Linked DNA regions of Homo sapiens. The protein of the gene in region 3 purifies or fractionates together with the protein of the main gene of each other region. This does not show direct contact. Each region holds a gene or a part of one and is shown on either strand. Other genes may lie near its edges. The genes, in order: NIT2, CTSS, GOT2, THEM4, TKT, PAK2 and KYAT3.

Region 1 (4,650 bases), on a different chromosome or scaffold from region 3:
TAGTTTAAATAGTAGTTTGTACCTGTAGAAGTCAACTAATTGTTATAAGACTATAACAGGAGGACAATATAGCCAAACCAGGAAACTTAGGAGTATAGAATAACAATTACCCAAGACTGTCCTGTATGGAATTTGTATTTATAAGGAAATAACTTAGGAGTTGTTGTGGGGATACGGGTTATAATTAGTCCTATTCCCATCCTCTGCTAAATTGATTTGTGAACAAAGTGACAAAATTTTAATTTACTTGCAAGCTTTACCACACTGATAGGATGAGTAATGATTCCCCAAAAGACAGCCACATCCTTATCCCTGCAACCTGTGAATGTTACTTTAGTTGGCAAAAAATGGGCTTTGCAGATGTAGTGAAGGGTCTTGAGAAGGGGAGATTATCCTAGATGATCTGGTGACCTTAAAATGCAGTCACAAATGTCTATGTAAGAGGAAGGTTTTAGACAGAAGAGGAGATGGCAGTGTTGCCACAGAGGCAGAGACTGGAGGTGATGTGGCCACAAGCCAAAGAATGTTGGCAACTACCAGAAACTGGAAAAGGCAAGAAACGGATCCTGCCCTAGAGCAGAGTGCCAACACCTTCATTTTGGCCCCATGAATTTGGACTCCAGAAGTAAAAGAGAATAACTTTGTTTTTTTTCAGCCACTAAATTTGTGATGATAGTTTATTACATCAGCCATAGTAACAAATATTCCTTTGGCTATTGTGTACAAGCAGATAAATGGTTTAAAGGAATGCCTTTGAGTATGCTAAAGTAGAATGACTTCATATACACACAAATTTTGGCCAAAGATGGTTTAGGCAGTGAATGTACACCCATGCCACAGACTGGAGTTTTCATCAACAAGTGGGGGTATTTGTGATTTAAAATATGAATGATTGCACTATAACTATCAGACCAAAAAGCTGCCCTTCAGGTATAAAGTAAAAATTGAGATCCCTCTGCCAATATTCTACAAGAGACATCAGAAAGAAGGCACTGTTTTCAGACTCTTAGCATGAAAATAACTAGTCTGGTTTACTTCAAGGTGATAGTGCACAAATCATATTAGGAGTTGACAGCTATAGATCCTTCTCAAAGGTCTTCATGCTGGAGGGCCTGCTGATCACTGGGATAGAAGTAGCTGTGGTACCTGGCCAAGGGGAGGAAGCTGAACATGGTGTATGCTTGGGGTCAAGATGATTGCTGCCTTTCAGAGCTCAGGATACATGGCTCAAATTTCTCCATTTCTTTTGTTGGTGCTTAAAGATAACCTGTGCAAGTGTTGTCCTGGAAGGCTATGAAACAGCTTACCTAGAGCAAATACAGGAAGACCATGACTAACATTGGCTCTTGGGCATTGTTTTAGAGGGCGAAAGGTTTAAAGCAAGAATGCAGCATGGTAGGATTCTCTGCAGAGATGATCCATGGCCTAAATTATGAACTGCTATATTAAATAACTTTTACCTGATTTTATTTCTCAATATTGCTCTGTGTCAAGAGCTGTAAAAGGTCTAAGATGTTACCCTTCTTGAAAACTAGTTTTCTGAATGCTGGCAGAAGACATGAGACTCCTGGGTCAGACAACAGACTTAATTATTTAGAACATAGCAAGCAACATGAGTTTGAGCCACAGATCCCATGGGAGTGACACAGGGCAAGCTAGGTGGATACTGCACATGCAGTGGGTTTGCGTCACAGCCCAAATCTAATGAGGTCACAAGCAAACTGGCCTGACTTTCGCATTAGAGGGAAACACTATTTTGACTGTATCAGATAGTAAACAAACCTGTCCTATGATCCAGAGGAAGATAGTCTCTACCTTCCAAAGCTGTCATTATATGAACATTCTCGATTGGATAGTTTGGAACAAAACACCAATGCCTCTACTCACAAAATGTATGGAGAACTGACTCCCCATCTCTATGTGTTCTTTTATGCATCTCAAGCTTAGTTTTTCAGCAGTGTAGAGCTTTACAGTGTCTGCCTTAGACAACAGCATGATGCAGGGAGAAATTACTGGCCTGAGCATCAGGTGACCTTAGCTCTAAATCAATACTGCATTTTTTTTTTGATACAGTTTAACTCTGTTGCCCAGGAGTACAGTGGTGTGATCTTGGCTCACTGTAACCTCCTCCTGCCTTACCCTCCCGAGTAGCTGGGATCACAGGCATGTGCCACCACACCCGGCTAATTTTTGTATTTTTAGTAGAGATGGGGTTTTGCCATGTTGGCCAGGCTGGTCTTGAACTCCTGACCTTAAGTGATCTGCCCATCTTGGCCTCCCAAAGTGCTGGGATTACAGGCGTGAGCCACCATACCCGGCCTCTGAATTAACACTGCTTTCACTGCTTTCTAATGGAGCTAAGATCTTAAGTAAATGAATATTCAGCTCTACAGCATATGAAGTTACATCACGTCCCAGGCTCTTCCCAGATCAGACTCCCTTAAGGTAAGGAAATCATTCCAGAATTATTTGGCCAGAACACTTGGTGAGAGAGCAAGTGCAACCTGTAGGAATAAATTCATTCCAACTCAACATTTACTAAGCACTCATGATGGTGAGGGTTAGCCATAAAAAGATGAACATAGAGGAGCTCAAAAACTGAGTTTTGGTGGGCTGGATAGTAAATGAACCTGTCATATGCTTCAGAGGAAGGTAGTCTCTAAAACAGAAGTACAATGTAGTGCCATGGAAACAAGAGTAATAAATTGTGCTAAGCATTAAGGAATAAACAGGATTTAGGTAAGGAGCTTCCAGAATGTGGGGAAACAACCACAACAAATCTAAATAAAGGCACAGCATGAGTGTGAGCTGAAAATGAGGCATTCAAGGTAGAGTCCAGCAAAGTGAAGTGGTTGTTTTTAAACGAGTGGGGAAAAGCCAACAGGAGAGCTATGTGAATGAGAATTATCGGCATATATTGAAGACCATGCATGTAGCTGAGATTCCTCAGGACAAAATAAAATGTAAAGGAGCTAAAATAAAACTATTAATATAAGGGCCTTTAACATCTAAGGGACAATGTTAAGTGGTGAGAGAGGCAGTATGAGCAAGGTCACACCAATGGTGTTGAGAGAGGCCACATGGACAGGTCTACAAATCGGTCTTTAGTAATCTGCCAGAAGAGTGTCACTGGACAGATGAGGGCAGAATCTGCCTGCCGGGGTCTGAAAAGCAATTGAAAGAAACTAAGAAATTGGGTGAAAAAAAATCAGGAAGAGTACTTTACAGGATGGCGTGCTCTTTGTTCTGAGGGAGAAACTTTGAGAATGAATCTACAGACAAAAGACTTAAAGCCTAGTTAGCACAACGGGATATACTTGGAGGATTCAATATGCTTCAGGAAGAGCTAGGATGACAACATTTGGAATTACTGGACCCTGCCCACCATGTTCTGTTCTTGCAGATTCTTGTTCATTTGATTATGAATCAGCTGTGAAGTAAATCATTGAACAAGAAGCACTGTCTTTGTATGTATGTGTTTTAGTTATTTGTACATCAGGGGCTTAACTTTTTAATTGGTGATTTTAACAAGACCATTTTATCCTAAAGTGCTTTCTATTCCAACAGCTGGCTTTTTCTTAGTCTCCGAACTTCATTCACAAGTAGAAATGAATGAAGATAATAATTTGATAGGAAATGTGAAACTGTCACACACAGGTGGTTATGAGGCATAAGGAAGAGCCCCTGTTTAGCCTGCAGCACACACATCATTTCCCTTTCTATCCCTCCTGGCTTCATTGTACCCACGCACCACCAAAACTTACACAGCAATGCCTAAAAAGTAGCACAAAAGACTTAAAACCAGTGCCAATAGAGCAGAACATTTATCTTGAAACCTAAACTCTTGTCTAAACTTTTTTCCACTTGGTGTACTTTGCACAGACCTAACTTTTGGTATCAGGAAGGAGTCCTTCCCTAAATACCCAGTCGATGTCACAATCTACTCCTTGGTCATTTAAAACCCCATAATGTTACTTATTTATTCATTTGCAACCAGTGCAACACTTATTATCTGTTAGCTCTCAGCTTCAAACAGCTAGGTCAAAGTCAAGTAGAACTTTCACCACAAACTGCACATCCTGACCTATTTCAACAGAGGTCGTCATCCCTGTGAGGAATTCACTTAAATGTGAATTCATTAAATGTGTTGCCTTACCTAAACTGCAAGAGATAGAGGTTCACAACTTGTGATAGCAGACTTCAAAGTATTATGCAAAAACAAAAAACAAAAATAAAACATCATTGTCTAATTCATTAGAAAGTCGGGGAGTACAGGGGTATGGCAGTTAAAACTTACCCAAGGCCTCAACTGCAATGTTCTTCCACTCCAAGTGGGAATCTAGTGTTCATTTTATTCGGATATCACTTTGCAAAAAGGTAAAATCCAGGGCCAGGTTACCACACATTTTCTGAGAATAAAATGCTACATACTAATTATAGGAGATGCCTACTTCAGTTGTTTCTTTTCATATTTTTCAAGAGTACCAGAAGGCAAGATCTCCTGATATACCACTAAAAGGACAATTCATTTAATGAAATACATAAAAACAAAAACAAACAAAAGGCTGGGTGCCGTGGCTCACGTCTGTAATCCCAACACTTTGGGGAGGCCAAGGCTGGTGGATCACTTGAGGCCAGGAGTTCGAGATC
Region 2 (4,771 bases), on a different chromosome or scaffold from region 3:
TCCCCTAGCTTCTGAAAGTTTGCTGGTGATCTTTGACTTTCCTCAGCCTTTAGGACAATCACCCTGACCTCTGCCTTCATTTTCACATGACATTCTCCCTGTATGCATTTCTGTCTCTATTCATAATTTTACTTTCTTCCCCTTTTTGAGACAGGGTCTCACTCTGTCACCCAGGCTGGAGTGCAGTGGGGTGATCAATGTTCACCGCAACCTCAAACTCCTGGGCTCAAGCAATCCTCCCACATCAGCCACCAAAGTAGCTGGCACTACTGGCATGCACCACCACACCAGACCAATTTTAATTTCTATTTGTAGAGACAGGATCTCTCTATGTTTCCCAGGCTGGTCTCAAACTCCTGGGATCAAGTGATCCTCCTGCTTTGGTCTCCCAGAGCACTGGGATTACAGGTGTGAGCCACTGCGCCTGGCCAATTTTCCCTTTTCATGAGCATCATTCATGTTGGATTAGGACCCACCCTAATGACCTCATCTTAATTTAATTAATTATGTCTACATCAACCCTATCTCTAAATAAGTTCACATTCTGAGGTACTGGAGGTTAGGATTCCAACATGAATTTTGTGGGGACACAATGCAACCCATAACACCCCTTAAATCTTTACTTGAAGTACATAGTCTACAAATCAAACAAAAGGTGCTTTCCTACCCTTTTCCCACTGTGGCACACATAGAAGATGATGATATTCGTATGGCCCATGGGGAAAGTAGCTGAGGGGATCAATATCTTGGTTCACTGATAACCTATTCACAGCACTGATCAGCTTGGGTGTAGACCAGTGATAGCTTTTTAAAATGAAACTATTTCCCTCATATCTTATTGACTCTCTAAGGAACTCCCTACGGCAGGTGTTCTAAATTCCCTTCTCTACTGAAGTTGCTCTTGAAGATCATCTATATCTTTTAGTGTTGAAATTCAAATCTGCTTCTCTTCACTCATTCATTCAACAAGCACTTACTAGGCATCTACAATGTGACTGGCATTATCTAGGCCCTGGAGATACAAAAAATAGTAAGAAACCATCCTGTCCTAAAGGCACTCACAATCTAACATGAAAAAATATATATAATATATATTATATATACATACATAATATACAATACATATTATGTATGCATACATAATATACAATACATATTATGTATGCATACATAATCTATAATATACATAATATATAATATAATACATAATATACATATATAATATATAATATATTATGTATACATAATATACATATATAATATATAATATATTATGTATACATAATATACATATAATATATAATATATTATGTATACATAATATACATATAATATATAATATATTATGTATACATAATATACATATAATATATAAATATTATGTATACATAATATACATATAATATATAATATATTATGTATACATAATATACATATAATATATAATATATTATGTATACATAATATACATATAATATATAATATATTATGTATACATAATATACATATAATATATAAATATTATGTATACATAATATACATATAATATATAAATATTATGTATACATAATATACATATAATATATAAATATTATGTATACATAATATACATATAATATATAAATATTATGTATACATAATATACATATAATATATAAATATTATGTGTACATATTATGTATACATAATATACATATAATATATAATATATTATGTATACATAATATACATATAATATATAAATATTATGTATACATAATATACATATAATATATAATATATTATGTATACATAATATACATATAATATATAATATATTATGTATACATAATATACATATAATATATAATATATTATGTATACATAATATACATATAATATATAATATATTATGTATACATAATATACATATAATATATAATATATTATGTATACATAATATACATATAATATATAATATATTATGTATACATAATATACATATAATATATAATATATTATGTATACATAATATACATATAATATATAATATATTATGTATACATAATATACATATAATATATAATATATTATGTATACATAATATACATATAATATATAATATATTATGTATACATAATATACATATAATATATAATATATTATGTATACATAATATACATATATAATATATTATGTATACATAATATACATATATAATATATTATGTATACATAATATACATATATAATATATTATGTATACATACATATAAATCTCTCTATATATAAATATAAATATATTTATAAATATATATATATATATATATATATCTCCCAGCCTCCCAAAGTGTTGGGATTACAGGCGTGAGCCACCACCGCACCCAGCCTAGATGTATTTTTAAACGATACAACAAACACATCGTGGTATAATGATACATGTCTAAATGGCTATGGGACTGTTGAAGAGGAAATGCCTAACAGCCTAAACCTCCACAGAGAAGACACTATTTGAATCAAGTTTCCAGATGTATGGAATTGTTCATGTATTGGAGGAGGAAAGTGTGTTAGAGGTTGGAAAGTTGCTCTCAATGACCCAAAAAACATATGCAATGGCACATTTCTCACTATCTTGATTCATTTTGCTACATCAACTTTAGCCTCATATCTTACGTTATTTTATCCACCTGCCTGTTACATGAGTTTGCTATATCAAAGCAAACTCATCTATATCAAAGCAAACTCACCTGCTCCTTCAGTTTCAACTATTGCCATTATGTAGATGATCCCCAGTTCATAATCTCTGAAAATGACCTCCTAAGTGACACACTTCCTTGTCCAACTTCCAATTTGGCAGCTCTCCTTGAAAAATCCAAACTCCCCACCTACATCACCCTACTACCAACATATACACACTCTCATACTCAATAAGTTTACAATGTTCTTCTCTTCCTTTCTTCCCTCATCCCTGAAAAGGATTTTCAAACAAGCTCAAGGGAAAACTATTCCTTATTTTGGGTAATATATTACCATCTTCAGATTATTAAAGCCTAAGCATCATCTTGGCCTTTTCCTTTTCCCCCCTCAACCCACCCAGCCCTATCCATTTGGCCTGTGAATCATATTTTATATGTATTTTCTCTTTGCCATTCCCAATGGCCCTGCTGTAATTCAGATTCCATTCTACCCAGCTATAGCGGTATCTTTTTAAAATATAGATCATGTCAACTCCTGCTCAAAAATTCTGAATAGTTCACCATTGTCTAAAAATGAAGTCCAAACTCCTGGCCAGGCATTCCAGGTACTCCATTATCTAGCTTTTAACATAACCTTAGACATTTCTTCCACTATATTTTCATATACCCACAGTCATACTCTGGCCACAGTGAACTACTTATTCATCATTCCCTAAGTTTACAGATACATCCCTACCTCTGTTTCTTTATATATGCTGTATCTTTCTGAAATGCCTGTGAAGTCCAATGCTGTCTATAGAAATCCCACCTGTCTTGGTGAAATGGGCATTCTTATACAGTTTGATGGGAAAGTAAGCTGTATTTATTCTTTTTTTTTTTGAGATGGAGTCTCACTCTGTCACCAGGCTAGAGTGCAGTGGCATGATCTCAGCTCACCGCAACCTCTGCCTTTAAGGTTCAAGCAATTCTTCTGCCTCAGCCTCCCGAGTAGATGGGACTACAGGCATGTGCCACCATGCCCAGCCAATTTTTGTATTTTTAGTAGAGATGGAGTTTCACCATGTTGGATGGAGTTTCACCATGTTGGCCAGGATGATCTCGATCTCTTGACCTCGTGATCTGCCCACCTCGGTCTCCCCAAGTGCTGGGATTACAGGCATGAGCCACCCTACCCTGCCTATTCTCTTTCTTGGAAGCAATTTGACAATATGATAAAGAACTTTTTAAATGTTCATATTCTTCCCCCCCCCTTTTTTTTTTGAGACAGAGTCTCGCTCTGTCTCCCAAGCTGGAGTGCAGTGGCACAATCTCGGCTCACTGCAACCTCCGTCTCCCAGGTTCAAGTGATTCTCCTGCCTCAGTCTCCCAAGTAGCTGAGATTACAGGTGCCCACCAAAACACCTGGCTAATTTTTGTATTTTTAGTAGAGATGGGGTTTCACCATGTTGGCCAGGCTGGTCTACCAACTCCTGATCTTGGGTGATCTGCCTGTCTTGGCCTCCCAAAGTGCCAGGATTACAGGCGCAAGCCACTGCGCACAGCCAGTGTCCCATTACTTTTATTTCTTGGAATCTATATGAAGAAAATAATCCTAAATATGGGAAAACTTTCATACACAACTTATGTGAATTGTAGCATTATTATTTAATAGTAAAAACTAGTAAGTAGCCAAAAATGCCTAACAATAGGTATATGATTAAATAAACTATGACATAATCAACTCCATGCATTAGATTTATTCAGACTATTATTAATAACCTAATAAAATACTTGGGATATATATTTAAATGAAAAAAGATACACATAAATACAAAATTTATATGTAGTATAAATATTAGCTGAATGTGGTAAGCTCATGCTTATAACTCTAGAGCTTTGGGAGGCCAAGGCAGGAGGATCACTTGAGGCCAGGAGTTTAAGACCAGAAACATAGGGAGACCCAGTCTCTATAAACAAATTTAAAAAATTAGCTGGGCATGGTGGCATGTGCCTGTAATATCAACTACTCAAGAGGCTGAGGTAGGAGGATTTTTTGAGCTGAGGAGTTTGAGGCTACAGTGAGCCATGATCACACCACTGCCCTCTGGCCTAGGTGAC
Region 3 (3,500 bases):
GTGAGCCTTTATTCTTAATTCTCTTCTTGGAAAGCCCTTTTACTCCTCCTTTCAGCCTTAGCACTCAGCTGCTAAGTCACGTCCTCTGGGAAGCCTTCCTAACCTTGTGCAGTACTTTCCTTCCCTTCTCCAAGCTATTACGTCCTCTGCTCAGGGCTCCCATAAGTAATATCCCATAATAATGCCCTGGGTAGGTGTGTATCACTATCCATCATCTCCCTGCAGTGCCCAGCCTGCATTACGTGCAGATCTCTGCTGATCACCACAGTGTACTAGTCAGGTGGTAAGGGATTGTGTTGTACTCTTCTTTACATTCCCAGCCCTTAGCATAATGTTCTTAATGATTGCTTTAGAAGATCATAAAGCCTAGAAAAGTGTTCTGGCAAGGCAGAGAATCTCTACACTCTAAACTGATTGCACAGTTTTTTCTTTTTTTAAAAAAAAAAAAACCTTTTATATTGTAGGTGAAGTCATTAATGACTAAACCAAGGAAACTAGGCCATCAAGATTGGGCAAACTTTGTTAAAATGTTAACTTGTGTGCGCCTGTAGTCCCAGCTACTTGAAAGGCTGAGGTGGGAGGATGGCTTGAGTCTAGGAGGTCAAGGCTGCACTTCAGCCTGGGGGACGGAGTGAGACCCATCTCTTTGTTTGTTTGTTTATTGAGACGGAGTCTTGCTCTATTGCCCAGGCAGGAGTGCAGTGGTGCATTCTCGGCTCACTGCAACCTCCGCCTCCTGGGTTCAAGCGATTCTCATGCCTCAGCCTCCCAAGTAGCTAGGATTAAAGGCGCACGCCACCTTGCCTAGATAATTTTTGTATTTTTAGTAGAGACAGAGTTTCACCGTGTTGGTCAGACTGGTCTCAAACTCCTGACCTCAGGTGATCCGCCTACTTCGGCTTCCCAAAGTGCTGGGATTGCAGGCGTGAGCCACTGCACCCGGCCGAGATCCATCTCTTTAAAAAAGAAAAAAAAAGTTAACTCAGCTTCTTTTCAGATTCACTTACTATAAATCAAAACAAAATTCACAGCCGGGTGCAGTGGCTCACGCCTGTAATCCTAGCATTTTGGGAGGCCAAGGTGGGTGGATCACTTGAGGTCAGGAGGTAGAGACCTGACCAACAGGGTGAAACCTTGTCTCTACTAAAAATACAAAAATTAGCCAGGCGGGGTGGCACACATCTGTAATCCCAGCTATTTGGGAGGCTAAGGCAGAAGAATCGCTTGAACCCAGAGACAGGTTGCAGTGAGCCACGATCGTGCCACTGCACTCCAGCCTGGGTGACAGAGCAAGACTCCGTCTCAAAAATAAATAAATAAATAAATAAATAAAGCAGGCCGGGGGCGGCTCACGCCTGTAATCTCAGCACTTTGGGGGGCCGAGGTGGGTGGATCATGAGGTCAGGAGTTCAAGACCAGCCTGGCCAACACGGCGAAACCCCGTCTCTACTAAAAATACAAAAATTAGCTGCGCATGGTGGCAGGAGTTTGTAATCCCAGCTACTTGGGAGGCTGAGGCAGGAGAATCGCTTGAACCCGGGAGGCGGATGTTGCAGTGAGCCGAGATCGCACCATTGCATTCCAGCCTGGGCGACAAGAACAAGACTCCGTCTCAAAAAAATAAAAAATAAACAAAATTCACTAAGTTTTGTCCTCATATGCTCTTTCATATTTAAAACAAACTGGTCTTTTAGGATGGTAGTTCTCCCTGGGAACATGTTCTGTGTTAGTTATGTTAGCATGCAATGTGTTTCCATCATTGCTATTGTCAAATGAATCAAAAAGTATAACAAGCTGCTCAGTTTTTCTAATACAGTAAGTATTAATAGTTATACCCCACATAAATAAAAGCTCTTTGGGGTTTTCAGTAAGTTTTAAGAGTATAACAGGATCTAAAGATCACAAAGTTTGAGAATTGCTGCTTTAGACCAATACTACTCTTTTTCCTTAAAAACACACAGTTGTATTTATTTGTCACTGTTGATCCTAGTGTGGTCTCAACACTCATTGCTTATCTTTTAACCAAAGTAGCTTCTATTTCCCAGAGAAAATTAAGAAGAGAGGGTGGTGATGTCAGTCCTACACAAGCATTCTAAACAGACTGGCAAAACTCGTGAACACACGCAGTACAACTTCTACAGCCACATGTATCCCTTTTATACCTCCTTAAAGTGGCAACAAAGAAAGACCTTTTTATTTTAATGACTCAAAGCTATAGCCTCTCGAGCATGTAAAAATAAACAAAGGTATATAAATTTTAAATTATGCTTGGTAATCAATGTGTCTGTAGTCTATCTTAGAAATTATTTAGGTATACAATGAATAATAATCTGTTAATCAATTCATTGTAATATTAGACCAAAAGTGTAAGTTACCCTAAAGATCTTAGAAATTGTCTTCAAGGCCAGGCGCAGTGGCTCACGCCTGTAATCCCAGCACTTTGGGAAGCTGAGGCGGGCAAATCACATGAGGTCAGGAGTTCAAGACCAGCCTGGCCAACGTGGTAAAACCCCATCTCTACTAAAAACACAAAAATTAGCTGGGTGTAGTGGCGGACACTTGTAATCCCAGCTACTTGGGAGGCTGAGGCAGGAGAATCACTTGAACCCAGGAGGCGGAGTTTGCAGTGAGCCAAGATCACGCCACTACACTCCAGCCTGGGTGACAGAGTGAGATTCCATCCCCCAGCTCCAAAAAAAAAAAAGAAAGAAAGAAATTGTCAAGCTGGCATATTACAAAATACAATTACTGTTCTCCCAAAAGCTTATCCCCAGTCTAATAAGAAAAACATCAGACAAATTCCAGTAGAGGGGCATCCTACAAGATACCTGACCAGCATTCCCAAAATTGTCACAGCGAAGAGGAGCTTATGGAGACATGCAACTAAGCATAATGTGGTGTCCTAGATGGAATCGTGGAACAGAAATAGGTAAAAGCTAAGGAAATCTAAATAATGTGTGGACCTAATAATGTATGGACCAGGCATGGTGGCTCATGCCTGTAATCCCAGCACTTTGGGAGGCCAAGGCGAGCAGATCACCTGAGGTCAGGAGTTTGAGACCAGCCTGGCCAACATGGCGAAACCCCGTCTCTACCAAAAATACAAAAATTAGCTGGGTATGGTGGCGGTCATCTGTAATCCCAGCTACTCCAGAGGCTGAGGTGGGACAATCGCTTGAACATGGGAGGCAGAGGTTGCAGTGAGCTGAGATCACGTCATTGCACTCCAGCCTGAGTGACAAAGAGGGAAACTGTCTCAAAAATAATAATAATAATGTATCAGTATGGATTCATTAATTGTAACAAGTGTGCCATACCAATGTAAAATGTTAATAGGGGAAACCTGGGGGTAAGGGTATATGGGACTGTACTATCTGCTCAATTTTCTGTAAATCAATACTGTTTTGGCTCACGGAGGCTGAGGCAGAATTGTTTGAACCCTGGAGGCAGAGACTGCAGTAAGCCAAGATTGCACCACTGTACTTCAGCCTGGGTGACAG
Region 4 (4,771 bases), on a different chromosome or scaffold from region 3:
GAGTCCGCTAACCTCTCAGCTTTTGGCACAGCTGTTGACTCCTTTCTGTTTGAACATAACTTCTAGGACACCACATTCTCCACTTCACTGGTGCCTCCTTTTCAGTTTCTTGGGCTGGCTCTTCCCCATCCTCAAACCCTTCATGTTGGGGTGCCCTCAAGTCTCAGTCCTTAGTACTCCTCTCTTCTCCACACTCCATTGGTAATCTCATGCAGTCTCTCAGCTTTAGAGACCATCCAGAAGTTGACAACTTCTTAATTAAATGGTTGAAATTTAGTGCCTGGGTTCAAATTCTGGTTCCACAATTTAAAGCTGTGCAACTTTGAGCAAGGCACTTTACCTTTCTGTGCCTCAGTTTCCTCATGGTAGATACTTTAGTATTTGCTGAAGGAATGAATAAAACAAAAATAAAACTAATCAAGAAAAATTATAGAGTTCTTAAGTTTCTTTGCAGAATCTCTGATATATCTCGAGGGAAGAATTATTCTGTTTTATAAATGAAGAGGAAAAATGTGTAGTTTGTATTACTTATTCTCTTCCAACTGTTAGCACATCACACAACTGACTGTCCTTATCCCAGCACAATCTGGCTTCTACCCTCACAGCTCTACTGAAATGTCTTCATTGAAGCCACTAGTGACGGAAGTGCCAAATTCAGTGTGCATTCTTCAGCACTTACTGTACTAGACCTCCCTGTCTCATTCTCATTGAAACATTTTCTTTTGGCTTTCATAAACCTTTCAGACCAATCTTCCCTCCTCCTTCTACTTGCTCCTTAAATGTCAATGTTTTCCAGGGTTCCATTCCTACATTTTGCTCATTTCTTCATCCAACCCTCATTCGCTCTTGACTAAAATTTGACCCTCTCAGAATCAAGAGGAGTTTGAGATCCTCTTTGCTACCCACACTTGTTTTCAAACCATTACTTCCCCTCATCTTAAAAAGCCCTCTGGGCTGGGCACAGTGGCTCAACACTTTGGGAGGCCAAAGTGGCAGATCACTTGAGGCCAGGAGTTTGAGACAAGCCTGGGTGACAGAGCAAGATTCTGTCTCAAAAAAAAACAAAAACAAAAAACCTCTGTTTCTTTGAGTTTATACCATCTAACTTTGTCACCCTCCTCTTCTTCTCCTCCTTGTTGCTGTCATCTGTCAACCTCTCCCTCAGTGTTGAGTATTTCAGCAGCTGGTCCGCTATCTACCCAACTCCATTCAGCATCCTCAGCAACTCGAGCATCTACACAGTGGCTCCTCAGTTTATGTGCTTCCTCATCACCTATGAACTTTTCTTATCCCCCAGCCCCAGCCACACACTGCCATGAACATCTCGAGCCTTATCTTCAGACAGTACACAGCCTCCAAATGCATACATTTAAACATCCTGTTTTCTGATGACAGCATTTTTCCTTTCAGCAGCTTACTTGTTCAAAGGCCCCTCAGAAACAATTGTTATTTCATTAAGACCTTCTGAGTTCATTGAATCCTTTACTTTCTCATGGTCCAATAGCCCTCATCTATCTGAACTTTTGTAGCCCACCTAACCTAGGAAAACCCCAGCCCTGGATGAATCCAACCATCTGCCATCTTTACTTTGAACTGGCTTTCACATAGTTAAGCATTGCTAGAGAAAATCACCCCATCTAGCAGATAAGTTTGGTGATTGTGATTTTTGTAGTTTCATCTCCTGTCTCCATTCTTATCCTCCTCAAAGCCCTTCTTCCACTCAACTGTCAGAATGATTCAAAATGCAAATCTCATCATGTTATTCCAATGCTATTTTCAGTGCTATCCCATTTCTTAAAATACTCTTGCCTTTCAGACTTAAAAATGAATATGAAGCACCTAGGAATCTTGTTAAAATGCAAGTTCTGCTTCAGAAGGTCAGAAGTAGAACCTGAGATTCTGCATTTCCAACAAACTTCTTTCACCATCACAAAGGACAAACACATCCTCTTGAGAGTAGTAGCTTTTGGTCTTTATTTTGAAATGACCTACATTTTAACTCAACCCAGACCTTATTTTTCTCATTTTTATGAAATAAGCTCAAGGTTTGCCAATCTAGACCAGAAATCTCAAACTCCTAAGTAAAACAATTATAAGCACTTAACACCTATCTTATCCTGAAGTCCTGGAATGTCAGAGTTGGAAGAGATCTTAGAGCTCATTTTGTTTTATCTCCTCATTGTATGGATAAAGTGTAGTGCAAAAGAGTGAGTTCTAGGCCAGAGGTAGGCCAATAATTTAATTTTCCCAACTCACGGGCCAAGGTTCTTTCCACTGCACCATAATACTGATCCCCAATTTTAAGGTTCCTTGTCTGTCCTTCTAAACCATCAATTCACTCAACAACTGCTTAAGTGTATATAGTATGTGCACATCTGTGCCATTTGTTGGGTATGCAAAGTCTAAAAGACAGGGTGCCTGCCCTGAGATGCTCATGACCTAATTCAAATGCATCCTTCCTGTCCCTCTCCCCACTTCTCCTGGATCTTCTCATCTGTATCTTTTTCCACGTTTGTAAATATAAATTCAATAGAAATAAACAGTTTTATATATGGCAAATCATGATGAGCTATGAAAGAAAGGTGAGTAGGGGGATTAAATTTTAAAATAGATACAAAAGGATAAATGCACTATTTCTTGAGAGCAATGGCTTTCAATCTTTATTTTGAAGTGACCTATATTTTGATTCAATCCAGTTCCCCCAACTTGCTCACAATTGTGTAAGTGAAAAAAAACTGTGTCTAAACAAGTGCACTATTACTTACCCAGAGTATATGGTTCTGTTAACTAAGTGTTCTGTTTCTTTTTAAAGCCTGGTTAATGGCCGGGCGCTGTGGCTCACGCCTATAATCCCAGCACTTTGGGAGGCCAAGGCAGGCGGATCCCTGAGTTCGGGAGTTCAAGACCAGCCTGACCAACACGGAGAAACCCCGTCTCTACTAAAAATACAGAATTAGTCAGGCGTGGTGGTGGGCGCCTGTAATCCCAGCTACTCAGGAGGCTGAGGCAGGAGAATCGCTTGAACCCGGGAGGCGGAGGTTGCGGTGAGCTGAGATCACGCCATTGCACTACAGCCTGGGCAATAAGAGTGAAACTCTGTCAAAAAAAAAAAAAAAAAAAAAGAAGCCTGGTTACAACCCACAATCTGATTTCATGAACCCTAATGGTTCTCACTGCCAGTTTTGGGGGCTTAGAGTCACAATCACTTGAGTGTTGGGCTGAACTGACCCTGTTGCTGATTCAGACTCAACTCATGTCTGCCAGGGAAACCTCCTTTCTGTTACATTTTTTATTTTCTGTAAATTGCATTTAAACCACAGTTCTTCCAAGAAGGATTTCCGTCTTTACCGTACCATTTTATTCAGTATATTGTTAGCGTTTATATACTATATTCCTGATTGCCATGTGTGGGTACTTCATTTTGATTTCATGTCTGTTTACTCTGTCCCCAGTTGGACTGTTAATTCCACAAGGGCAAAGATCCTATCTTCTGTTTCATTGAGACGCTCCCATTCCTTTCAATTTTGCACCCTGTGGACATTTGAATCAATCATCTATTGACATGTGATTCTAGCAGGGTACAGGTGCTTGGCTCTGCCATGGCATTTCTCTCACCCTTGTTTCTCATTTGCCATCCACCTCATTTTCTATAGACCCAAAGCTTATGAAAGAAGAACAAATGTCACAGGCCCAGCTCTTCACCAGAAGCTTTGATGATGGCCTGGGCTTTGAATACGTGATGTTCTACAATGACATTGAGAAAAGGATGGTTTGCTTATTTCAAGGAGGCCCTTACCTGGAAGGACCACCTGGGTAAGAATGATAGCCTGAAAGTGTGGATCTAAAAGATTTTTATCTTACACTGCCCCCATGTGTCCTGTACATGGACTACAATAAAGATTTTCAAATGGTCACATAGATGTATATTTATTGACATGGAAAGATGTTTATAATACATTATTAAAGGACATCTTATCTATATTATTAATATTGATTAAATATTTTTATATATGAGCATTATAATATTATAGGGCATAGGGCAATAGAGTATAATTTGAGAGCATATCATTAATGTGTTAACAGTGGCTTGTCACTGACTAGGTGGGTAGTATTATGGGTCCTAAATTTTTTTCTTTTTTTTCATATTTGCATTACCTACATTTCTAAACAATGAATATGTATAGTTTGTTTTGTTTTGTGAGACAAGGCCTTGCTCCTTTGCCCAGGCTGAAGTGCAGTGGCATAATCATAGCTCACTGCAGCCTCGAACTCCTGGGCTCAAGCAATCCTCTCACCTCAGTCTCCCGAGTAGCCAGAACTACAGGCACATGACACCACACTTGACTAATAATAAAAACATAATATAAATTTTCTAAATTACATTTTAGCTTTTTGCTTGCTTGCGATCTGGTTACTATTAAGTTCTGGTTTTATTACAAATACTTAAGACTATATTATTATGCTGTGAACAAAACAAAGTTGGGGACATAGATAGTATTTGGCATTCAGTACACTGAACATGGGCTAAGTGGACCTTTCATAAGTAAATAGTGTGAAGATGCTTGGATAATTTTTCTCTTTCAAGAGGCTCTCTATCTTCAGAACTTCTGAAAACATTTCTCCTCCACTCCTGTTGTAACTAGATTCATTCATGGAGGTGCCATTGCAACCATGATTGATGCTACTGTTGGTATGTGTGCAATGATGGCTGGGGGAATCGTCATGACTGCCAATCTCAACATCAATTATAAAAGGTAAATTCACAGTAATT
Region 5 (4,771 bases), on a different chromosome or scaffold from region 3:
CCGTGTGACCCTAGTCCCAGGCAAGGTGTGGCTGGCAGTGGGCAGCTGGGCTCTTACCTTGGAGAGCACAAAGCGGTCATTGTGCGGATTCCGGGGGTCCTGGGACTTGTAGCGCATGGTGTGGAAAAAGAGGACAGCCATGATCTCTGCGGCGCTGCAGCATGACGTGGGGTGGCTGTGGCCCAGGAGAGAAGACAGACACAGGCATCATGGCCCTGCACTCCTGAGCTATTGTGCTCAGCTGTACAGGGACCTGGGGGTGCATGTCCTGAGGAGTCACACAGGCCTGGCTTATCAGACAGCCACGAGCTCTTGTTCCCTGGGAGGGTGACACATGGTCTCAAGAAGGCCACTCCTGGCAGTTTGGGGCCTGGGCCAGCTAGTGGGTGCTGGGGACTGTTGTACCTTTCCAGGGGCATCAGATCCTCAGAATCACGGCAACTGAAAATATCTGGGGTTGGACTTGAGTAAGAAGGAAGGAGGGGCCCAGGAGAGATCTAGCACAGAAGACTCAGCCCAAGGCTAGCACTGCGGCTGGGGGCAGCTGCTGTCAGGTAGAACCCAGTTCCCACCTAGTGGCCCCCAGGAGTCTAAGGACTCAGCAGCCAAGGGGTGCCGGCATTCCTACGACTGACCCCACATCCTGACAGGACTGCCCGGACACTGCCCACTTGTGAAGGGCACCCTGCCCTCTCAGCACCCAGGGGTGCTGGGCCTCTGAGCCCATGGGGCAGGGAGGAAGGGACTGAGGCTCATGGAGTTACCACAGACCTCCCAGCAGCCTCCACGCATGGGGTGTGGTAGCCTGAAAAACTGGGCCTTGGGCTTTCCAATTGCATCACTGGGCTACTTGAAAGCTTTAGAAATGGGCAGTTTGAGGGCTGCTGTAGCAACTAGGAAACAGGCTTTTGTGTAGAATTTTCAAAGCAAGACACATAATCTCATCTCCTACAAGGCTACAATCATGTATTAATAAAAACCCCTTCTGCCTATGGACAAGGGCTGAGGAAGGGCTGACAAAGCAAGAACCTGCCTTCCAGCCTGGGAGTGGTGGGGCCACGGAGTCCCCTTGGCTTTTTAGACTTGTTTTAATCACTGAGCGGCTCCTGAGCAATAGAAAGCGTAAACTTTCTATTGCTTCCTGCTTCCCAGCAGGAAGCGCTGCAGGTCCTGATCAGCCCTGAAGCCCTCTGGTCCCAGGGTTTTGTTAAAAGTTCAGCCTCAGGGCACAGGCCTCCCGGGAGGGCCCCTCCACATGCAGCTCAGCTCAGCTCAGCTCAGCCCTCTCGCTGCTCCCAGAGGTCCTTCACACGAAGACACGCCGCATGCCAAGCCCAAGGGCACATGCACCATCTGGAGCTCACGCCGCCAGCCTCCCGCCCCTCCAATCAGCGCTCCCACCAGGTTAGGGGTGAGTCACGCTCAGTGCAGACAAGTTAGTAGTAGAGAAATCCAGAAAACTGTCCATGCTGGTTTAGTACCAACATTCTCGCACACGATCATCTTATACTTAACTATTTCTATGAACTCCCGGTCATGGGAAAAGACACTACACCTGAAAGAGGGAGGGGAGGACATGGTAAACGAGAAACCCTTTTCTGCCTGGCAGGGACCCTAATCCCACGCTCCCAGTGCCAGCTTCAACTGGAGGCCACCCTAATCCCACGCTCCCAGGGCCAGCTTCAACTGGAGGTCACCTCAGGCTGACCTCTCGTCCTTCCCACCTCCAAGGGCAGCCCCGGCCCTGAGGGGTCCTGTTTCTAAAGCCATGGTCCCATTAGGAGGGATCCTTGGTGGGAGAAGGATGTGGGTGGACACTGGGCCAAACTGTTCCGGGGAAGAACAAGGACGGTAAGTGCAGGGCTCCACCTGCCCCATCCACCTCGACACCCCGGGGTGACAGTCCCATTGGCCACCAGAAGGGGTTCCAGGGAGAAATGGTGTGGCACAGGCTCTTTCTGTGTGTGGCAGAAGCACACCCAGGCCCAGATAGAGTAAACGTGGAGAGAGGAAGGTCAGCTGCGAGGTGACCAAGGGTGAGAAGTAGAACGTGCAGCTGATTTTAAGCCTTCCTTGCTAGGCCTGCAGCCTTTCATTCCTTCCAAAGGCTGCATCCAGCCTGCTGCGGCCACTCTCTTCACTTCTACCAAGTAAACACGCACAAAAGAAGAACGCTTAGGAGCCAGGTGTCCCCGCACTCTTCCCCAGAGCTTTTGGGGCTCTCCCTCGGCAGAGCATCCTGGGTTGGGGAGGTGAGCTGTGCCACTTGGGCTTCGTGACTTCAACAAGTGCTTCGTCAACCCGGGGCTCAGCTTCTTCACTTGGGAGAGTGTCTGGGAGACACAGTGAGATAACGCAGCATGCACAGTACCCAGGTCTCTAGCAGCCGCCACCACTGCCAACCCTCTCAGCACCTGCAGCTCTTATCTACAGGCAGGGATGGTGACACCACCCACTCCTGCTGGCCACAGGCAGGCAAGAGGGGAGAAATACACCAAGGATTGAGACCGGGCTCTGCACACTGTAAAGCACTGAGCACACAGGAGACAGTTACTTTCAAGCTCAACTTCCTAGCGGGCCTTTGGGGCCAAAGGCATACATTTAAGCCTGTGGCCTCCTCAGGGCCAGAGTTTTTCCTGCCATTCCAGACTGCCTGCACAACTGCAGGTGGACGCCCCATCCCGTGGTGCTGTGTGTGACAACTCTGGGTGAACACTGGCGAGAGATGGGGTGAGGAGCACGGTGGAGGGGCTACAGGGTACTTACTGTATACCCTGACTCTGTGATAAACAGGGCTAACAAGCACACTTGACTGTTCAAAAAAAAAAAAAAAAAACTAACACACCCTGCCTTGACCAAAACAGTCCACTTACAACCCCAATTAGTTCAACCTGTGACGGTGGTGTGGCAAGCTTAGAGCTAGGCCCAAAGAAAGTCTCTTAAAGCCCCCTCCAGGCTGGGGGCAGTGGCTCACACCTGTAATCCCAGCACTTTGGGAGGTCAAGGCAGGCGGATCACCTGAGGTCAGGAGTTTAAGACCAGCCTGGCCAATATGGTAAAACCCCATCTCTACTAAAAATACCAAAAAATTAGCCAGGTGTGGTGGTGGACGCCTGTAATCCCAGCTACTCGGGAAGCTGAGGCAGGAGAATCACTTGAACCTGGGAGCCAGAGGTTGCAGTGAGCCAAGATTGCACCATTGCACTCCAGCCTTGGCAACAAGAGTAACACTCCATCTCAAAAAAAAAAAAAAAAAAGCCCCCTCTCCACTCCCCTCCAGGACAATATATATTCTTCCAGATGTCCCCTGGCCAGGAGAATCTCTGTCATCGCTTTAGTGCTCACTCCACCTGCTCACAGGTTTCTATGCAAGAAAAGGCCAGAGAGGCTCCCTCACCCTCCAGATGGGCTCCTTCAAGAGATAATGGATGTCAGGTTGGGCGCGGTAGCTCACACCCGTAATTCCAGCACTTTGGGAGGCCAAGGCAGGCAGATCACCTGAGGTCAGCGGCTCAAAGACCAGCCTGGCCAACATGGTGAAACCCCGTCTCTACTAAAAATACAAAAATTAGCCGGGCGTGGTGGCACATGCCTATAATCCCAGCTACTTGGGAGGCTGAGGCAGGAGAATAGCTTGAACCCCGGAGGCGTGGGTTGCAATGAGCCGAGATCATGCTACTGCACTCCAGCCTGGGCAACAGAGTGAGACTCTGTCTAAAAAATAATAACAATAATGAAAATAATTTACCAAAACTGACTCAAGAAGAAATAGAGAACCTAAGTAATCTTTCAAGCATTAAAAATAAACCAGATCAGTAGCCGAAGATGCACATCCCTTAACTCCCAGCAACTTCACCAGTAGGAACATACAGTGAAATGTACTCACATGTTCCACACATTCTACAGGAAACACAAACAGGCCGGGCACAGTGGCTCACACCTGTAATCCCAGCACTCTGGGAGGCTGAGGTGGGTGGATCAACTGAGGTCAGGAGTTCGAGACCAACCTGGCCAACATGGTGAAACCCTGTATCTACTACAAATACAAAAATTAGCTGGGCATGGTGGCAGGCACCCGTAATCCCAGCTACTTGGGAAGCTGAGGCAGGAGAACCACTTGAACCCAGGAGGCTGAGGTTGCAGTGAATCAAGATCGTGCCATTGTACTCTAGACTCGGTGACAGAGTGAGACTCCATCTCAGGAAAAAAACAACAACAACAACAAAAAAAAGGAAACACAAACAGGGCTGCCCCGCATTGTTTGCAATTGCAAGACCTGGAACTCACTTATATGTTTATCAATAGACGAGGTTAACTGGAATATATTAATATAATGGGATACTATACAGCAGTAAGAATGAGCGAGCTACACTTCACAAATCCGGTATCAATATTCTCTCCCAAATATAGTGTGAAAAAAGCACAGTGCAGAAGGATCTGTTTAACAAAGAAGACCATATTGATTTATGTACAAGTCTTTTTGTATATACTACAAGGAAAACAGGCCAGGTGCGGTGGCTCAAGCCTGTAATCCCAGCACTTTGGGAGGCCGAGGAGGGCAGATCACCTGAGGTCATGAGTTTGAGACCAGCTTGACCAACACGGATAAACCCCATCTCTACTAAAAATACAAAATTAGCCGGGCATGTGGCACATGCCTGTAATCCCAGCTACTCGGGAGGCTGAGACAGGAGAATCGTTTGAACCCGGGAGGCGGAGGTTGAAGTGAGCCGAGATGGCGCCATTGCACTCCAGCCTGGACAACAAGAGC
Region 6 (4,771 bases), on a different chromosome or scaffold from region 3:
GACTTCAGTAAACGTCTTTATTTTGTTTTCCAGGTTCATTGTTTTATCTGAGAATAATAGTAACTTCAGTCACTTTTCTATGGTTACAATATTTAACCTTTTTTTTTTTTCTTTTTCTTTCTTTTTTAAAGACGGGGTTTCACCGTATTAGCCAGGATGGTCTCGATCTCCTGACCTCGTGATCCGCCTGCCTCAGCCTCCCAAAGTGTTGGACAGGCATGAGCCACCGTGCCCAGCCCTTAACCCTGTTTTAGGTCTTTATTACATTGGCCTGAAGTTCCAAGACTTGGTTAAACAAGAGACGTGTCGTTGTCTTGAAATGACTCTGGTATTAATATTTTTACAGTTAGGGATGATGGCAGCTGTTGGATTTAGAGAAAGATTATTATTTTATTCTGTTTCTGCTTTACAAAAAATAGGAATGGCTTCTGAATTTTATGAGATGCTATTGTAACATTTAGATGATGATATGGTTTTCTTCTTTTAACTATTGCTGAGGATATGTAATAGTAAATTTGCTATTAATCAAAGGTATCACAAGGTATATATCGTGAATAACCAAAATCCCACTCATATTAGTCCTGCGTACGGAATTTATTGAAAGGTTAGAGGAGAATCTCATATAAATTTAGATTAATAAGAATAGGCCGGGCACAGTGGCTCATGCCTGTTATCCCAGCACTTTGGGAGGCCGAGGCAGGTGGATCAGCTGAGGTTTGGAGTTTGAGACCAGCCTGACCAACATGGAGAAACCTGTGTCTACTAAAAATAGAAAATTAGCCAGGTGTGGTGGCAGGTGCCTGTAGTCCCAGCTACTCGGGAGGCTGAGGCAGGAGAATCGCTTGAACCCGGGAGGCGGAGGTTGCAGTGAGCCGAGATCGTGCCATTGCACTCCAGCCTGGGCAACAAAAGTGAAACTCTGTCTCATTAAAAAAAAAAAAAAAAAGGATAGGCCTTTATGATAACTTCTGTAGTTAACTTCTATAACCTATTCAGGAATCCTTATTCATGAGTCACTTTTGATAATTCGTATTTCCTAGATCATTTCTTTTAGATTTTCAAATCTGTTACTATATAGGTGTGTATAATCTTTTGTCATTAAGATCTGTGGTATTCATTTCCTTTTTTTTATTAGTGATTTCACTATTTTTCTGAATTTGCCAAATGTTTGTCTACTTAGTGGTTTTTTTTACTAACCAGCTTTGAGATTTACTTATTGTATTGGTTTTTTTTTGTTTGTTTTCTGAATGCCTGATTTCTACTTTTCTCTTTATTTTGCTCTCCTGCTTTTTTTTTTTGTTGTTAACAATGTTAACATTAAGTTAATGTTAATGTTATTAATTCTTAATGAATTCTTAGTTCCTTTAATGTGTTTTCGATGAGCGGTAATCGCTCCTCGGATAGACCTCATTGGCTACGATACCGCCACTGTGCAAAGCTAGTTCATTTTAATGTCTTTTAATAATAAAAACCTTTAATGTTCTTAATTTGCTTTTGAATGCAGCGTTGGCTGCACATTCTAATTTACATGGACAATGTTCTTCTGCTCAGTATTTTCCAAATAGCTGGTGGTTCTAGTTTTGATTTCCTCTTTGACTCAGGAGGTATTTAGGATAATTCTATTCACTCATATTTTCTTTCATTGTTGTCAGCTTCTATAATCTTTTAAAATATCTTTTAAACTTATTGAGTGTTTCTTGTGACTTAAAACATAATCCATTTTGGAAAATGTTCTATGAAAACTTAGAACATTTTCTGTTGGTAATATACAGAGTTTTATACATAACCTATTGATTAAATTTAATGACTAAGATTATTTGTATGAATTACCAGTTTTTATAAATAGTTCTTACTAAATATAGGACTTAGTCTTTATTAGTCCTAGTAAGAACTATAGTCGTTATTAATAATTCTTATTAATGTAAAAATCTTCCTAATCTGCCAAAGACAAAGAGGTAGCATTGTTTCTGAGAAGCTTGTTCTCACGTTGGGACCTTTAGATTTTTATTTCTTCTGCCTGAATGTCACTGAGGCCATATTTGAAAGAGATCTTTCATGATCACCTCTGCCTACCCCCACTCCGCATCTAACTTCCTGCCCTTCAGTGTGTTTATTTTCCTTTATAGCACTTCCATCTGAAGTTTCTTTTTCATTTATTTGGTTTTCTTTAATATACTATTCTGTTTTACAGAGCTTTGAACAAATAGGTATGAAATAAGTATGTGTTGGTTGAGTGTCACTCTCTTATTTCTAATGATTTTTAGAAATTTTTATTCATTTTAATTAATAGACTTTGCAGCATTTTAGGTTCACAGCAAAACTGAGCCTAAGGTACAGAGTTCCCATATACCCCATGCTCCTCATGCCCCTCTTCTCCAAGCCTCCTGCTCATCAACATCCTGCATCACTGTGGTATATTTGGCACAGTCAGTGAACCAGCATTCACACATCATCACTGCCCAAAGCCCACAGTTTACGTTAGGGTTTGCTCGTATGGTATTGTACATTCAGTGGGTTTTGACAAATGTATAACAACATGTCTCCACCAGTATCATACCGACTGGTTTCCGCACCTTAAAACTCTCTGCTCCACCTGTTCCTCCCACTTTTACTGCAACCCCTGGCAACCGCTGATCCTTTTACTACCTCCATCGCAATGCCTTTTCCAGAATGTCCCGTAGTTGGAATTATATAGCGTGTAGCCTTTTCAACTTGGCTTCTTTCACTTAGCAGTATGCATCTGAGGTTCTTCCGTGTCTTTTCATGGCTTGATAGCTCATTTCATTTTAGCACTGAATAATATTCCATTGTCTGGATGTACATTCACCTATTGAAGGACCAGGTTTGGTGATTATGAATAAAGCTGCTGTAAACATTGATGTGTGGAGTTTTTTATTGTGGTGTAAAATACATGTAACAGAACTTACCATCTTAACCATTTTGAAGTATACAGTTCAGTGGTACTAAATACATTTATAGTGTGCAATTATCACCACCATCCATCTCCGAAACTTTCCATCCTGCAAAACTGAAATTCTATACCCATTGAACCATAACTCCTCATTCTCCTTTCTGTCTGCATGATTTTGGCTACTCTTATGTACCTTATGTAAGTGGAATCATATTTTGTGTTTTTGTGACTTATTTCACTTATCCTCAAGCTTCATCTGTGTTGTAGCATGTCAGAAGTTCTTTTCTTTTTTTTTTGGGTGAATAGTATTCCCATGTGTGTATTTACCTTATTCTGCTTGTCCATTTATTCATCAGTAGACACTTGGATTGCTTCCGTAATTTAGGTACTGAGATTAATGCTACTACGAACATGGGTGTACAAATACCTCTTTGAGACCTTGTTTTCAGTTATTTCGGGTACATACCCAGAATGGAATTGCTGGGTCATATGATAATTCTGTGTTTCATTTTTTGAGGAACTACCGTATTGCTTTCCACAGCGCCTGTATCACTTCACGTTTCCACCAGCAGCGCACAGCAGTTCAGTTTCTCTACATCCTTTTTAACACAACCGTTGTTGTTTTTAATAGTAGCCATCCTAATGGGTATTAGGTGGTATCATGTTAGTTTTGATTTGCATTTCTCTAGCAGTTAGTGATGTTGAGCATTTTTTCATGTACTTATTGACCATTTGTATATCTTCTTTGAAAAAATGTCTATTCAAGTGCTCATGTGTAGGTTTTCGGGTGGACATAAGTTTTCAGCTGATTTGGGTGAATACCAAGGAGCATGATGGCTGGAGTGTATGGTAAGAATGTATTTCATTTTGTAAGAAACTGTTCAACTTTCTTCCAAAGTGGCTGTACCATTTTGCATTCCCACCAGCAATGGATGTGGGGGTTCCTGTTGCTTCACATCTTTTCCAGCATGTCATGTTATCATTGTTTTGGATTTTACCCATTCCAATAGGTAGTAGTGTTTCATTGTTTTCTGTTTTTTTTTTGAGATAGAGTCTTGCTCTGTTGCCTGGGCTGGAATGTAGTGGCACGATGAGAACTCACTGCAGCCTCGAGCTCCTAGGCTGAAGCGATCTTCTCACCTCAGCCTCCAGAGTAGCCAGGACTACAGATACGCTACCTTACCTGGCTATTTCTTTTTTTTTTTTTTGAAACAGAGTTTCGCTCTTGTCGCCCAGGCTGTGGTGCAATGGCATGATCTGGGCTCACTGCAACCTCCGCCTCCTGGGTTCAAGTAATTCTCATGCCTTAGCCTCCCAAATAGCTGGGATTATAGGCGCCTGCCACCACGCCTGGCTAATTTTTTGTATTTTTTTTGTAGAGATGGGATTTCACCATATTGGCCAGGTTGGTCTCGAACTCCTGAGCTCAGGTGATCCATCCACCTCTGCCTCCCAAAGTGCTGGGATTACAGGCGTGAGCCACCGTGCCTGGCCTATACCTGGCTAATTTTTAAAATCTTTTTGTAGAGACGGTTCACTCTGTTGCGCAGGCTGGTAGATACTTCTTTTGCAGATATTTTTTTTCTAAGTCTGTGGTTTAAGTTCTCATTCTCCCAACTCTGATGATTTCTGTCATGTTTTGATTCAGTATTATTTGGTACGTGTGTAAATTCTACACTGCTCAAGATCTTCATTATGAATTGTACCTCATCCATGAAAATGATTGTCCTGTACGATCATGATTTAACATTTTTGCATCTTATATTTTGCTTGTCTTAAATTCCTGTTGTACTTTGTTTTTTGTTCAATAAATTATTCAACATTATCTTTCCTTGCTGTTTTTTGTTGTGTCTTTTTAAA
Region 7 (4,771 bases), on a different chromosome or scaffold from region 3:
TTTCCACTTCTCTTCCTCCTCACAGTTCCTCAATGTAGTTGATTCAGATATCTGCCTGAGACAACCACCTCCTGGCGAGCACCTCACTGTGGTACAGCTAGATACAACCTACTTGACTCGCCCACTGACCCCCACCCTCCTCATGGACTGCCTAGATATGCCACAGTGACCACCTCTCAGTCACAGCCTGACACCATGAGCTTGTGCCTGCTCGCTCTAAACCCATCTGTTAGAAGTCTCTGCAGGAAACCTGCTTGGGTAACACCTTGGGCCCCCAAAAAGGCTTTGGCCCACAGATCCCACTCTCTCTCTGTTCCCCACCTGCTGGTTGAGTGTGTATATCCTGGACCACTCCTCACTTCCCATTGGTCCCGGGAGGCCTGCTGCCTCTTCTGTGTCCCAACTGACCAACACACCGGAACCTAACTCTCCTCCTCCTAGAGAGTGGCTATCTCTGTGGAAATAAACTGGATACAGGTCAGATGAGAGCCACAAGGATGTCTGCCAGTATAAACCAGTTTCCAGGGATGTCTGGTCATGGGTCAGACACTTAACATCAGGCCATCTGCCAGGATAAACAAGTAGCCCATGAAAGGCACACTGCAAACATCCAGGACCTCCCCTGGAGCCCCATCAGGGAACAGCTAGAGTTTACAGCCACTTTCCAGAGAGACAGACCTGAAGACCAAATTATAGGAAAATCATAACACCTTACTTTTCTGAAATTTGCTAAGATGATAATGAACTATTACAAGTAAAAATTGCTAGCATCAAATGCTTATAGTAAGAAAGAACTCAGCCAGTGGCTCATGCCTGTAATCCCAGCACTTTGGGAGGCTGAGGCAGGTGGATCACTCATTAAGCTCAGGAATTCATGACCAGCCTGGGAAATGTGGCAAAACCTCGTCTCTAAAAAAAATTTAAAAATTAGCTAGGTGTGGTGGTGCATGCCTGTGGTCCCAGCTACTCAGGAGACTCAGGTGGCAGGATGGCTTGAGCCCAGGAGGCAGAGGTTGCAGTGAGCTGAGATCACGCCACTGCACTCCAGCCTGGGTGACAGGGCCAGACCCTGCCTCAAACAAAACAAAACAAAACAAAACAAAACAAAACAAAACAAAACAAAACAAACTCCTATGTGAAGGATGTAAAGTTAAAAAATATGATCAATGTTTTGCTATAAAATTGAAAATTTCCTTTACTCTTTCCAGCTTTATACAATTTAGTATAAATAAAACACTTCAGTTTTTCAAGTTCATTGGCATATAACTTCATTGTAATAAAATTTTAAAACATTTAAAACTATATTTAGAATGGCTGTAATTTCTGTCATGATAAATTAGGCTTCAAGGTTTACTATTACTAATTTTTTTAAAAGAAAAGTTATATATGACACATTATCATGCTTCTAACTTTAGATTTGTATGGCATGTCAGAATTACATATAACAGCTTTAGGTAATATAAAAAACAATGCTTTTTGGAAACAGAACTATTTAGAATCTAGCTGTGTGACTTCAGGGAAGCTATTTAAAACTTTCTAAATCTTTTTACCTGCAAAAATGGAGCTAATGTTTTCTTCAAAAGGGTGTTTTGAGTACGTGGCACAAAGTAGACCCTCAATAAGTGTTATTCTCCCATTTATTTTATTTCAGTACATTCTAAAATGGCAAATATTCCCTGATAGCTTCAAAATTTCTAGATATTTTTCTAATGAAATAGTACATTTTGTTAAGTAAAAAGGAAACTACAATTTTACTCAAATGAACACTGAGTATATAATATTATTTCACACACTTGTGTTTTAAAATTACACACCAGAAGAGAGTGATAGCAAATCCTATGTTTAATAGACTAACTAGAACAACACTGACTCCATAACCATTTAACAATGGTCACATTTAAGGTAAAAGGCCTAAAAGTAAAGATAATTATAGAAAATGTAGACATTGCAAAAATCCATCCTTCTCCACAGATAAAATGCTGCTGTGGCTTTGACACCAATCTTTTCTCCATAATTCTGATATAATTTCACACATAAGTTTCCGTATAGTTGAAATAATAAAAGCCTTTACAAACCTAGCAAAGACACATCAGCGATGATGAAGTATCCTCCATCAGGAACTATGGGTTTTAGGCCAACACTTTCAAGTAAACGTACCATCCGATCTCTTTTTACTTCTAACTCTTTTGGCAAAGAATTAAAGTAACATTCTGGGTCATCCATGCGCTTGATGTCAATCCAGAAAGCTTGAGCCAAGGCTTCCTGTTTGTTAAGAATCAAAAAATATGAAAAGGCATATGGCAATGTTATTTATTGCTTAGTTTATTGGTATAATAAATAGAGATGATCTGAGTAAAATTATTGGCAAAGAAGTCACTCAGGAAATAACAGTTGAATTCCTGTGAACCTATATTAAACTCTATAGGTTAATGGAGGAATCAGTTATACCTAAATGATTAAATCTCATGTGAAGAACTGAGAAGGAGTCCTGAAAATTCAAATTGAAAAAGAGCTGTTACTTAAAGGTGGCTTGCTTGGAAACAAAAAGACATTAAGATATTTTCTGCTGAGGTGAGTTGTAGAATGACTTGCTAAATCTAAGTCAGAAGAACAACCAGAGAGTAGTCAGCCTCTCACCATTACATTTGGGGACAGAGTGGAAATGAAAGCTCACCTACTGTGCAAAGGAGAAATGTGCCTTTCTTATTCTCCATAGGTGTGGAAATCCTTGCTGGAATTATTCATATGCCAGGAAGTTGGTCAAAGTGTAAGAGGGACTAGAAATGAGTTTCTGGAACATCTACAGTAATTCCTCTATCTTTCTTCAAGAGCCAGGACAGCAAACTGGGCCAAGGAAAAAGCCAATGTTGTTAAGTATAGTGGACTGAATGTTTGTGCCCACTCTCATATTCATATATTAAAATAGTAAACCCCAAGGTGATGGTATTAGGAGGTGGGGCCTTTAGGAAGTGATTAGGACAGAAGGGTAGAGCCCTCAGGAACAGGATTAGTGCCCTTACAAAGGAGGGTTAGCTTGCTCCTTCCACCATGTAAGGACACAGCAAAAGGCACCATCCGTGAAGAAGCATGTCCCCACCAGACACCAAATCTGCTGGTGCCTTATCTTGGACTTTGCTGCCTCCAGAACAGTGAGAAATAAATTTCTGTTGTTTATAAGCCACCCAGTCCAACTAAGACATTAAGGACCAGGCAGGTAAGAGAGACTGTGTGGCAAGAGATGAGACTGGAGACAGAGAGGGGCAAGATCACAGAGATTTTATGCCAAAAGAATGCAGTAAAACAGAATTAGTAATAAATCTCCAGTACTACAAAATCTTGGAAAATAAGGATCGATTGCCTTAGCCTGGAAATCTGTGGTTTCCTGGAACCAAACATGGTTGTCCCAGGACAAAACAGAGCACCTAGCTGAAATGGAGAATAAGAGTGTTCAGAAAAAGATGTTCTGCATTCTTAGCTATATCTTTTTTTTTTTTTCTCTTGGCAACTTGTTCATTTACTATAGGAGATACTGCCTTAGAAAATTCCAAGTATAAGGAGACATAAACATCCATCCTAACTACAGCATTATCCTGGACTCCTTTCTTTTTCACATATCCCATATGTAACCTATTGACAAATAATGTTGGCTCTACTTTCAAAATATATTCAGAGTCCAATCACTTTTTACTGCTTCTACCACCCCCATCTTTGTTCAATGCACTGGCATTTCTCTCTTGGATCACTGTAACAGCTTTCTCACTCAATGAGGCAGTCAGAGTCCATTTGCTAACACAAGCCAGACCAAGTCACTCCTGAGTTCAAAACTCTCTAGTGACTTCCTATCTCACTCAGTCCTTACAGTGACATGCATGCCCCAGCTCCATTGGACTCCCAGCTACCTCTCTGATCTTAGCTTTTCCTACTCTTCTCTCAATCATTCCATTCCAGTCTCTGTGCTGTTCTCTGATATTAACATGCCAGCCAGGCTGTCTACCACTGGGCCTTTCCGCTTGTTCTCTCTGTCCAAAGGGGTTTTTCTCTAGGTAACCATGTGGCTGCTTAATCCCCTTCAGTTAGTTGTTCAAATGTTACCTTATCAGGGAGGCTTTCAAAGATTACCCTATTTAACACTGTATATCTCCCACCTGGAGCTTTATATCCTTCCTCTTCCCTATTTTATCTTTCTTCTTCATATCTATCAACATCTTTTTTTTCTTTCTTTTCTTTTTTTTTTTTGAGACGAAGTCTTGCTGTTGTTGCCCAGGCTGGAGTGTAGTGACACGATCTCAGCTCACTGCAACCTCTGTCTCCTGGATTCAGGCAATTCTCCTGCCTCAGCCTCCTGAGTAGCTGGGATTACAGGCGCCTGCCACCATGCCCAGCTAATTTTTGTACTTTTAGTAGAGACAGGGTTTTGCCATGTTGGCCAGGCTGGTCTCGAACTCCTGGCCTCAGGTGATCCGCTCACCTTGGCCTCCCAAAGTGTTGGGATTATAGGCGTGAGCCATTGTGCCTGGTTCTTTTGCCCTTTTAACTGCCTTCTAGAAAAATACTATTTTTTTCAGCATTTTGATTATCCATAGAATGATGGTAACTAAATCCCTATTTCCATAATATATATTAAAAATATTAAATATTAAATAATATTTAAATAGTTTTTCTTTTTTACTTTATGATGTATTCTAGAAATCTTTTTTATCTCAGTACAGTAATTATAGTATTTCCCTATTTTCTTTCTTGTTTCTTTTCTCTTTAGCAGCCAGTAGACAGA

The links.
Region 1: the proteins of GOT2 (region 3) and NIT2 fractionate together in Homo sapiens (co-fractionation; one large-scale study listed by BioGRID). This does not show direct contact.
Region 2: the proteins of GOT2 (region 3) and CTSS fractionate together in Homo sapiens (co-fractionation; one large-scale study listed by BioGRID). This does not show direct contact.
Region 4: the proteins of GOT2 (region 3) and THEM4 fractionate together in Homo sapiens (co-fractionation; one large-scale study listed by BioGRID). This does not show direct contact.
Region 5: the proteins of GOT2 (region 3) and TKT fractionate together in Homo sapiens (co-fractionation; one large-scale study listed by BioGRID). This does not show direct contact.
Region 6: the proteins of GOT2 (region 3) and PAK2 purify together in Homo sapiens (co-immunoprecipitation; one large-scale study listed by IntAct). This does not show direct contact.
Region 7: the proteins of GOT2 (region 3) and KYAT3 fractionate together in Homo sapiens (co-fractionation; one large-scale study listed by BioGRID). This does not show direct contact.

What each region holds. Positions count from the first base shown.
Region 1 is NC_000003.12:100,357,992-100,362,641, reverse strand, and holds the end of NIT2 (omega-amidase NIT2), read right to left. Parts: 3' UTR 1,007-4,650; downstream 1-1,006. UniProt on the Homo sapiens protein: Has omega-amidase activity. The role of omega-amidase is to remove potentially toxic intermediates by converting 2-oxoglutaramate and 2-oxosuccinamate to biologically useful 2-oxoglutarate and oxaloacetate, respectively.
Region 2 is NC_000001.11:150,741,038-150,745,808, reverse strand, and holds part of CTSS (cathepsin S isoform 1 preproprotein), read left to right. Parts: intron 1-4,771. UniProt on the Homo sapiens protein: Thiol protease. Key protease responsible for the removal of the invariant chain from MHC class II molecules and MHC class II antigen presentation. The bond-specificity of this proteinase is in part similar to the specificities of cathepsin L.
Region 3 is NC_000016.10:58,724,317-58,727,816, reverse strand, and holds part of GOT2 (aspartate aminotransferase, mitochondrial isoform 1 precursor), read left to right. Parts: intron 1-3,500. UniProt on the Homo sapiens protein: Catalyzes the irreversible transamination of the L-tryptophan metabolite L-kynurenine to form kynurenic acid (KA). As a member of the malate-aspartate shuttle, it has a key role in the intracellular NAD(H) redox balance.
Region 4 is NC_000001.11:151,888,256-151,893,026, reverse strand, and holds part of THEM4 (acyl-coenzyme A thioesterase THEM4), read left to right. Parts: intron 1-3,653; coding exon 3,654-3,813; intron 3,814-4,643; coding exon 4,644-4,754; intron 4,755-4,771. UniProt on the Homo sapiens protein: Has acyl-CoA thioesterase activity towards medium and long-chain (C14 to C18) fatty acyl-CoA substrates, and probably plays a role in mitochondrial fatty acid metabolism. Plays a role in the apoptotic process, possibly via its regulation of AKT1 activity.
Region 5 is NC_000003.12:53,242,068-53,246,838, forward strand, and holds part of TKT (transketolase), read right to left. Parts: intron 176-4,771; coding exon 58-175; intron 1-57. UniProt on the Homo sapiens protein: Catalyzes the transfer of a two-carbon ketol group from a ketose donor to an aldose acceptor, via a covalent intermediate with the cofactor thiamine pyrophosphate.
Region 6 is NC_000003.12:196,745,885-196,750,655, forward strand, and holds part of PAK2 (serine/threonine-protein kinase PAK 2), read left to right. Parts: intron 1-4,771. UniProt on the Homo sapiens protein: Serine/threonine protein kinase that plays a role in a variety of different signaling pathways including cytoskeleton regulation, cell motility, cell cycle progression, apoptosis or proliferation.
Region 7 is NC_000001.11:88,947,016-88,951,786, forward strand, and holds part of KYAT3 (kynurenine--oxoglutarate transaminase 3), read right to left. Parts: intron 2,263-4,771; coding exon 2,076-2,262; intron 1-2,075. UniProt on the Homo sapiens protein: Catalyzes the irreversible transamination of the L-tryptophan metabolite L-kynurenine to form kynurenic acid (KA), an intermediate in the tryptophan catabolic pathway which is also a broad spectrum antagonist of the three ionotropic excitatory amino acid receptors among others.